2 linked regions of the Homo sapiens genome follow. The protein of the gene in region 1 interacts with the protein of each later gene in a pairwise test. Each region holds a gene or a part of one and is shown in the gene's direction. Other genes may lie near its edges.

Region 1 (3,500 bases):
ATACCCACAGGCAACATGTGGTTTGGAACTGACCAGGTCTGCCAAACTGCCCAGAAATCAATACACTAGTACAGAAAATACTATCAAGTGGCATGAACTTGGATTTGGCTTGTAGTTTGGCCACAGATATGATGACTGGTTTGGAAAAAAAATCTCTTAGAATGAAACAATGTTAGGATTAATAAGGGTTTCAGACCTTTTGTAATCTCATCCTTTCTTTGTGAGAAACTGAAGTCCAGGGAGATTAGCAAATTTGCTTAAGGTCAGACAATGAGTTTTAGTGAGTTGCAGTGCCAGTGCAGTCTTTCTGACCCCAATCTAGTATCCTTACCACTAAATAATTCTCTCTCTGTGGCACATTGATTACATCTGAAGCCAGATTCTGTTCTCTCTCAGGGTAGGCCAGGTGGAGCAGGTGCAGGTCCCCTCTGTGCTCTGCTCTTTTCTTTGGCAATCCTGCACTATCCCCTCTGGGGCTGCAGACATCTCTTTGAAGTGCCCTCAGAGCTGCACCCCCAGAGCCTGTGACTTAAGAGATGAGTCAGGCTTATGTGCAGCCTCATGAGGTGTGTTTGTGCATGCAAGCCTGTGCATGTATACACACCACCCCTCCACACATGCATAGCTACATCATTCTGTCACTAAGATGGGGTAGGCGTATTCCTCCAGAATGAGTACAGAAATCAATTAACAGAGACTATACCCTGAACACTCTAAGGAAGTAAATTCTGTGTGTGAAGCCTTGGAACAGATGGACAAGTAGTGTAAGATAGTTTTATTGGCACAAATCACTTACCTCTGGTGTTTAGAGAGCTTTCACCATATTGTGTATGTGGTATGACTCTCTGGGGTGGATTCCTCTAGTCTTAGTTTGCAGGTTATGACTTGGGGCGCAGGGACTCCAGAGGTGGTAGCACCTTGAGTCAAACTATTAAAGGAGATGTCTATTATTGGATATCCCAGGAAGCAAGTATTTTCTACAGTGGAGCTACAGGTTTCATTAAAAGTGTAATGTTACCTAGATCAACAAATTACTTAGGGCTGAGGTGGTTGAAGGAAGAGTGATGAGGTCTCAGGTGTGGCTGTCTTGAGAATGATCTAGTTGAGTGAATGGCCTCATTCCCAGAACCCAGAGGACTTAGTCACTTGATATACAGAGGGGAAGTCTCTGAATCATTCATGGTAGGAGATGGTTGATATATGTATTTAGAGTAGTTGCCCTTGTTTTAAAATATACGTATGTCATGTAAGTAGTCCATATGAAACTTACCCTGTCTCTTTAAGTATCCATTCATTAAGTGTATTTCAGGGTTTTAAAATAATTTGTGATTTAATAGTAACTCTATATACTAGATAGCCCTGTGAGGTCACCTTCCTGCTCTCCTCCCACACACTGCAGGGAGAGGCCAGTGCTGTTTCTTCATGGCCCTCCTGTTGCTGGTGGGAGCCCAGCCTGGCTACACTGGGTGTAGTAGAGATTGTGCTCCTGAGAGAGAAGTCAGTCTTCTTTGGAGGAGTGCTTCCCTGAGCTGGCTGCTGAGGCACCAAATGATGGGCAGTAATGACCCTTAGAAAAGAGCTGGTTTTCTAGGAATGTGCTTTTGTGGCAATGCCTTCCTCACTTAGAGGGAGAAGTAACAGGACAAGGAGAGTGGGTGTGTTCCAGATCACAGCAGAGCCTTGGACTCACAGCAGCCAGGAGGGACTCTCTTCATCTCAGCTCCTTAGCCCAAGGGAACAGCTTTTCACCCTTCAGGTCAGCTGAGTTTTCCTGAGAACATTAACAGGCATCTTGGGTGGGTGATTTCAGTTCTCTCCTGCTGCTGGTAACAGGATGTTAGCCCATTGCTGAAGCATTTCTTCTTGCCAGTGGCAAGATCCTAACTGGACAGTGTGGGGGTACTGTCAATATCAGTGTTGTTTTGAGATGCTTGCTGCTGGTGAAAGATCCAAATGCTCCTAACTAGACTTCTTTTGTCCACCCCTATCCTGACCCTTTCCATTTAGAATGGGTTTGGAAGCCTTGGTGGAATCATATGCATTCTGGCGACCATCACTACGGACTCTGACCTTTGAAGATATCCCTGGAATTCCCAAGCAAGGTAACTCACAAAGTCTCCTGGGTCATATATACAGCCCGTTCCTGCCTAGAAACTCAGGCACTAAAAGTGTACAAGTCATTATTTATACTTACAATAATGACCTCATCACCAGCATTGTCCTACAGATTCCATCTGTCTTCTGCATGGTATGGGGATGGATCAGGAAAAAACGGCTCTCATGGTCACAGATTAAATCTTAGATGTCTTAGGCTGTTTGTATATTTCATGACCTTTACCTCATCCTTAAATCTCGTATTAAAATTAGAGGTGCTCTGATGCCAGGTCCTGTTCACAAGAAATTGTTGATGGTGCCCCCAGTCCACCCTTTCTTCAGATCTTGTTTGTTTTCTTTCTTCAGCAGAATTGCCTCTGGGTAGGGTTCTCCTGTTGGGTTAACGATGAGGAAGGTCAGGCACATTCAGGCAGACCCTCCTGGGCTCATCTCTGAATATTTCTCAGCAGCCCAGGGCTGATTTCTTCTCAGAGGGAACTGCATGGAAAGCGATGTTGCTTCCTCTCTGGTCTGCTCCATAGGTAACACTCTCAGCTCACTTCTACATTCAGGCTTTTTACCATCATCCTGCCCAGATTCCAGTGAGAATTTGCTATGCTGGGTTTCAGATAATTATTATTGGTTGGATTGGGCTTTTGGATTATTTTGAGACACTATATAAAACACCATCAATACAGCAATGAAGGTTTTACAACCTGTCCAGCCCTTTGGAATTCTCCTCTCCCCTTAAGTTCTGTCAAGTTTGCAAACATCAGTCTGCCAGCAGATCCAGAGGGGGCACCATCACTGCCATTGGTTGGACACAGGGTTAACTACCCTCTCTAAGTTTCACAGGACTGTTGATTTGTTGGACCTCTGCTCTTGTATTAGCATGTGATTCAACAACTTGTTTTCTAATTGGAAATGAGATTTTTCAACCAGATAATTCCTTGAAAGCTGAGACCATCTCCTTTTCATCTCTGTAGCATTCCTCCAACCCTTGCCTTGTAACAAGCTGTGTCTAGCTCATATTTACAAAATTGAAAGGAAAGGATGACTGTGGAGTCATTCTTTACATTTCAACTTCTTTTGTAGGCAATGCAAGTTCCTCCACCTTGCTCCAAGGTACTGGGAATGGCGTTCCTGCCACTCACCCTCACCTTTTGTCTGGCTCCTCTTGCTCCTCTCCTGCCTTCCATCTGGGGCCCAACACCAGCCAGCTGTGTAGTCTGGCCCCTGCTGACTATTCTGCCTGTGCCCGCTCAGGCCTCACCCTCAACCGATACAGCACATCTTTGGCAGAGACCTACAACAGGCTCACCAACCAGGCTGGTGAGACCTTTGCCCCGCCCAGGACTCCCTCCTATGTGGGCGTGAGCAGCAGCACCTCCGTGAACATGTCCATG
Region 2 (3,500 bases), on another chromosome or scaffold:
ATGACCGGGTGGATGGATTGCTGCACCAACTGACCCTGCAGAGCAACCAGCGAATACAGGCCCTAGAGTTGGTCCAAACACTGGAGGCCCGGGAAAGCGGACTGCACCAGGTCGGAACTACTTGCCCAGAGTGGGCCCTGCCCCGATCTCAGACGTGAGCCCCCAGTCCATAGCAGCTCTCTTCACTTTTCCCTGCTTGTGCTCCTCCAGATTGAAGTGTGGCTGCAGCAGGTGGGCTGGCCAGCACTGGAGGAGGCTGGGGAGCCCTCGCTGGACATGCTGCTCCAGGCCCAAGGCTCTTTTCAGGAGCTGTACCAGGTTGCCCAGGTATATGTGGTCACTTGTTCATGCCACGGGTATTGGGATGCAATGCCAGGAACTAGGAATGCAGAACTGTGTGAAAGCAATTCAATCCTTTGCTTTCTTAGACCTTATAGTCCCATAGAAGATATCAGTTGTAATTAATCACAGTCATATATGTGCCTGTAAACCCAGGCAAGATCTCTGGAGAGAATCAGTGCAGGTGATTCTGCCTGAGGGTATAACCAAGACTTTACCCAGCAGGAGTGTCAGGCAAGCTTTTTTTGGGTGATTTTTGAGCTGAGAGTTGAAAGATAAGTTGAGGTCAACCAGGCAGAAGAGGGTTGAGGATGGGGGCACATTCCAGGCTTGGAAGATAGCATGTGCAAAGGTCCTGTGGCAGGATGGAGGACGGTGTGCCTGAGGAATCATAAGGCCAGTGAGGTTGAAATGCAGAGCAGAGAGGAAGAAAGAGTTGGGGGAGTTGCGGTGGGACAAGCCTGGTCAGTGGCCACATCACTGGGCCCTGTAGCAGTCAGTGTGGAGTTTAATCAGGAAGGCCATGTAATCAGATCCATATTCTAGGAAGATTGCCTTCGTTTCCGAGTAGACAGTGACTTGGAGGATGGGCATGGGGAGTGCAGTGAAGAGGCAATTGCAGTAGTCTAGGTGGGAAATAGTGCCTCCTCTGGCCAGGATAGTGGCAGGGGAGACGGGTTGGAGAAGTTGATGGGATTTGCTATGTACCCATGTGGGAGGGTAAGGGACAAGGATGTTGCAAGGATGAATGGGTGCTGTTCCCTGAGAGACTAGGAGATGAGGTCATCTTGGGGGAAGGGCATTCAAGAGTCCGGTCTTGGGCATGCTCGAGATGGCTGTGAGGGATGAGAGGAGGGCCCTTGGGTCTTGGGCCTGGAGCTCAGAGGAGAGGTCTAGCTGGAGAGGATCACTTGGTGGGTCCAGGTGTTTGGATGACATTTGAAGTTGGTCACACAAGAGTGCCTGGGAGAGCGAGTGCACTGTCCTCAGGATCCCCAGTGTTTAATGGCCTAGGTGAGGGAAGGGGAGCAGGACGAGCCACCAGAGAAGAGTGAGGAGAATCAGGAGCGTGGGGAGGAGCTGGGGGAGCCCAGTAGAGAGTGGGCTGAATGACGCTGAGAGTTGGAGTCAGTGAGGCCTGAGAAGCGCTGGGGACGGGGCAGAGTGGAGCTGGAGAGGGCTGGTGCGGAGGGCGAGACGAGACGGTGAGGACAGATGATTCCTCTAGGAACTTTGGCTGTGGAGAAGGGGAGTGGATGTGGGTGGGGAGTAGGAGATACGGGTAGATGTTCCACCACAGGACAGACTTGATGGGGACATGTCGATATGTCAGCAGGAAGTATCTGAGTCTGGGGGCTAGACCGCCAGGCCTGGGCTGGCTGAGCCTAGTCTCTGTCTCTGCAGGAGCAGGTCAGGCAAGGGGAGAAGTTTCTGCAGCCGCTGACTGGCTGGGAGGCGGCTGAACTGGACCCCCCTGGGGCACGCTTTCTGGCCCTGCGAGCCCAGCTGACTGAATTCTCTAGGGCTTTGGCCCAGCGGTGCCAGCGGCTGGCGGATGCTGAGAGGCTGTTTCAGCTCTTCAGGGAGGTGGGTGAGAGTCTCCCCAGCTCCAAGTGATCCATGAGGCCGGAGGGATGGCAGCCCCAGCTTCAGCAGAGCCTGAGCTTTTCTTGGTCATGCTGCCTGTTCTCTTCCCTGGTCTTCAGTTTGACCCTAAAACCCAGTCACTGGGGCTGTGTCCTGGACAGCATCCTGTGGGGATGGGGAGTGGGTAGAGGAGCAGAGTGCCCAGCAGGCTTGGCAGGATCTTCCTCTAATGCTTGTCCGGCCCTGGTGTTGCAGGCCTTGACGTGGGCTGAGGAGGGGCAGCGAGTGTTGGCAGAGCTGGAGCAGGAACGCCCGGGGGTTGTGTTGCAGCAGCTGCAGCTGCACTGGACCAGGCACCCTGACTTGCCTCCTGCCCACTTCCGAAAGATGTGGGCTCTGGCCACGGGGCTGGGCTCAGAGGCCATCCGCCAGGAGTGCCGCTGGGCCTGGGCGCGGTGCCAGGACACCTGGCTGGCCCTGGACCAAAAGCTTGAGGCTTCACTGAAGCTACCACCGGTGGGCAGCACAGCTAGCCTGTGTGTCAGCCAGGTCCCCGCTGCACCTGCCCACCCTCCCCTGAGGAAGGCCTACAGCTTCGATCGGAATCTGGGGCAGAGTCTCAGTGAACCTGCCTGCCACTGCCACCATGCGGCCACTATTGCTGCCTGCCGCAGACCAGAGGCTGGAGGAGGTGCCCTGCCCCAGGCATCCCCTACTGTGCCTCCACCAGGCAGCTCTGACCCCAGGAGCCTCAACAGGTATGGGCAGTAGGCAGGGCGGGGAGGGCAGTAAAGGAGAGATGTCTTGGGTCCTGACTCCCCATACCTGGTAGGCTACAGCTGGTGCTGGCAGAGATGGTGGCCACGGAGCGGGAGTATGTCCGGGCTCTAGAGTACACTATGGAGAACTATTTCCCCGAGCTGGATCGCCCCGATGTGCCCCAGGGCCTCCGCGGTCAGCGTGCCCACCTCTTTGGCAACCTGGAGAAGCTGCGGGACTTCCACTGCCACTTCTTCCTGCGTGAGCTGGAGGCTTGCACCCGGCACCCACCACGAGTGGCCTATGCCTTCCTGCGCCATGTAAGCCCGACAGGCCATGTGGTATCAGCTCGTTCTGCCACACTCCCGAAGTTGCTGCTGGGCACATGCTTGGTGCCAGTCCCTGTGCTATGAGTATAGCTATGAGCAAGACTGGCAGGCTCCTGCACCTGAGGGTGCTCTTAGTCCAGTAGAGGAGACATAGAAGCAAGAACGATACTTGTAGATTATAGTTGGGGCTAGGAGGAAAATAAGCAGGATAGATGCTTGTGAATTACTGGCGGGGCAGGGGCTCCACTTTAGAGGGCCTGAGTGCGGTGCCAGGACACCTGGTACAAGAGGAAGTCTTTGAGAGGCTGATGTTTAAGCTGAGGAATAGGGGAGGGGCTGGAGTGAGTGTCCCACCCAGAGGAAAGAGCAAGTACAAGGTCGTGTGGAGGAAAGGGGGCCTGCCAAGGAGGTGGCTGAGTGTAGTGAGCAGGACAGTCCCAGGTGAGGTGAGCTCTTAGAGCCGTGGGAGGAGCAGAGCTGAAGGCA

Evidence for each region. The genes of interacting proteins can lie anywhere in the genome.
Region 2: the proteins of TBX18 (region 1) and PLEKHG4 interact in binary tests that used the Homo sapiens proteins (3 or more experiments, as listed by UniProt).

The regions. Positions count from the first base shown.
Region 1 is NC_000006.12:84,737,099-84,740,598, reverse strand, and holds part of TBX18 (T-box transcription factor TBX18), read left to right. Parts: intron 1-2,007; coding exon 2,008-2,102; intron 2,103-3,189; coding exon 3,190-3,500. UniProt on the Homo sapiens protein: Acts as a transcriptional repressor involved in developmental processes of a variety of tissues and organs, including the heart and coronary vessels, the ureter and the vertebral column.
Region 2 is NC_000016.10:67,282,532-67,286,031, forward strand, and holds part of PLEKHG4 (puratrophin-1), read left to right. Parts: coding exon 1-110; intron 111-210; coding exon 211-327; intron 328-1,743; coding exon 1,744-1,926; intron 1,927-2,181; coding exon 2,182-2,684; intron 2,685-2,758; coding exon 2,759-3,005; intron 3,006-3,500. UniProt on the Homo sapiens protein: Possible role in intracellular signaling and cytoskeleton dynamics at the Golgi.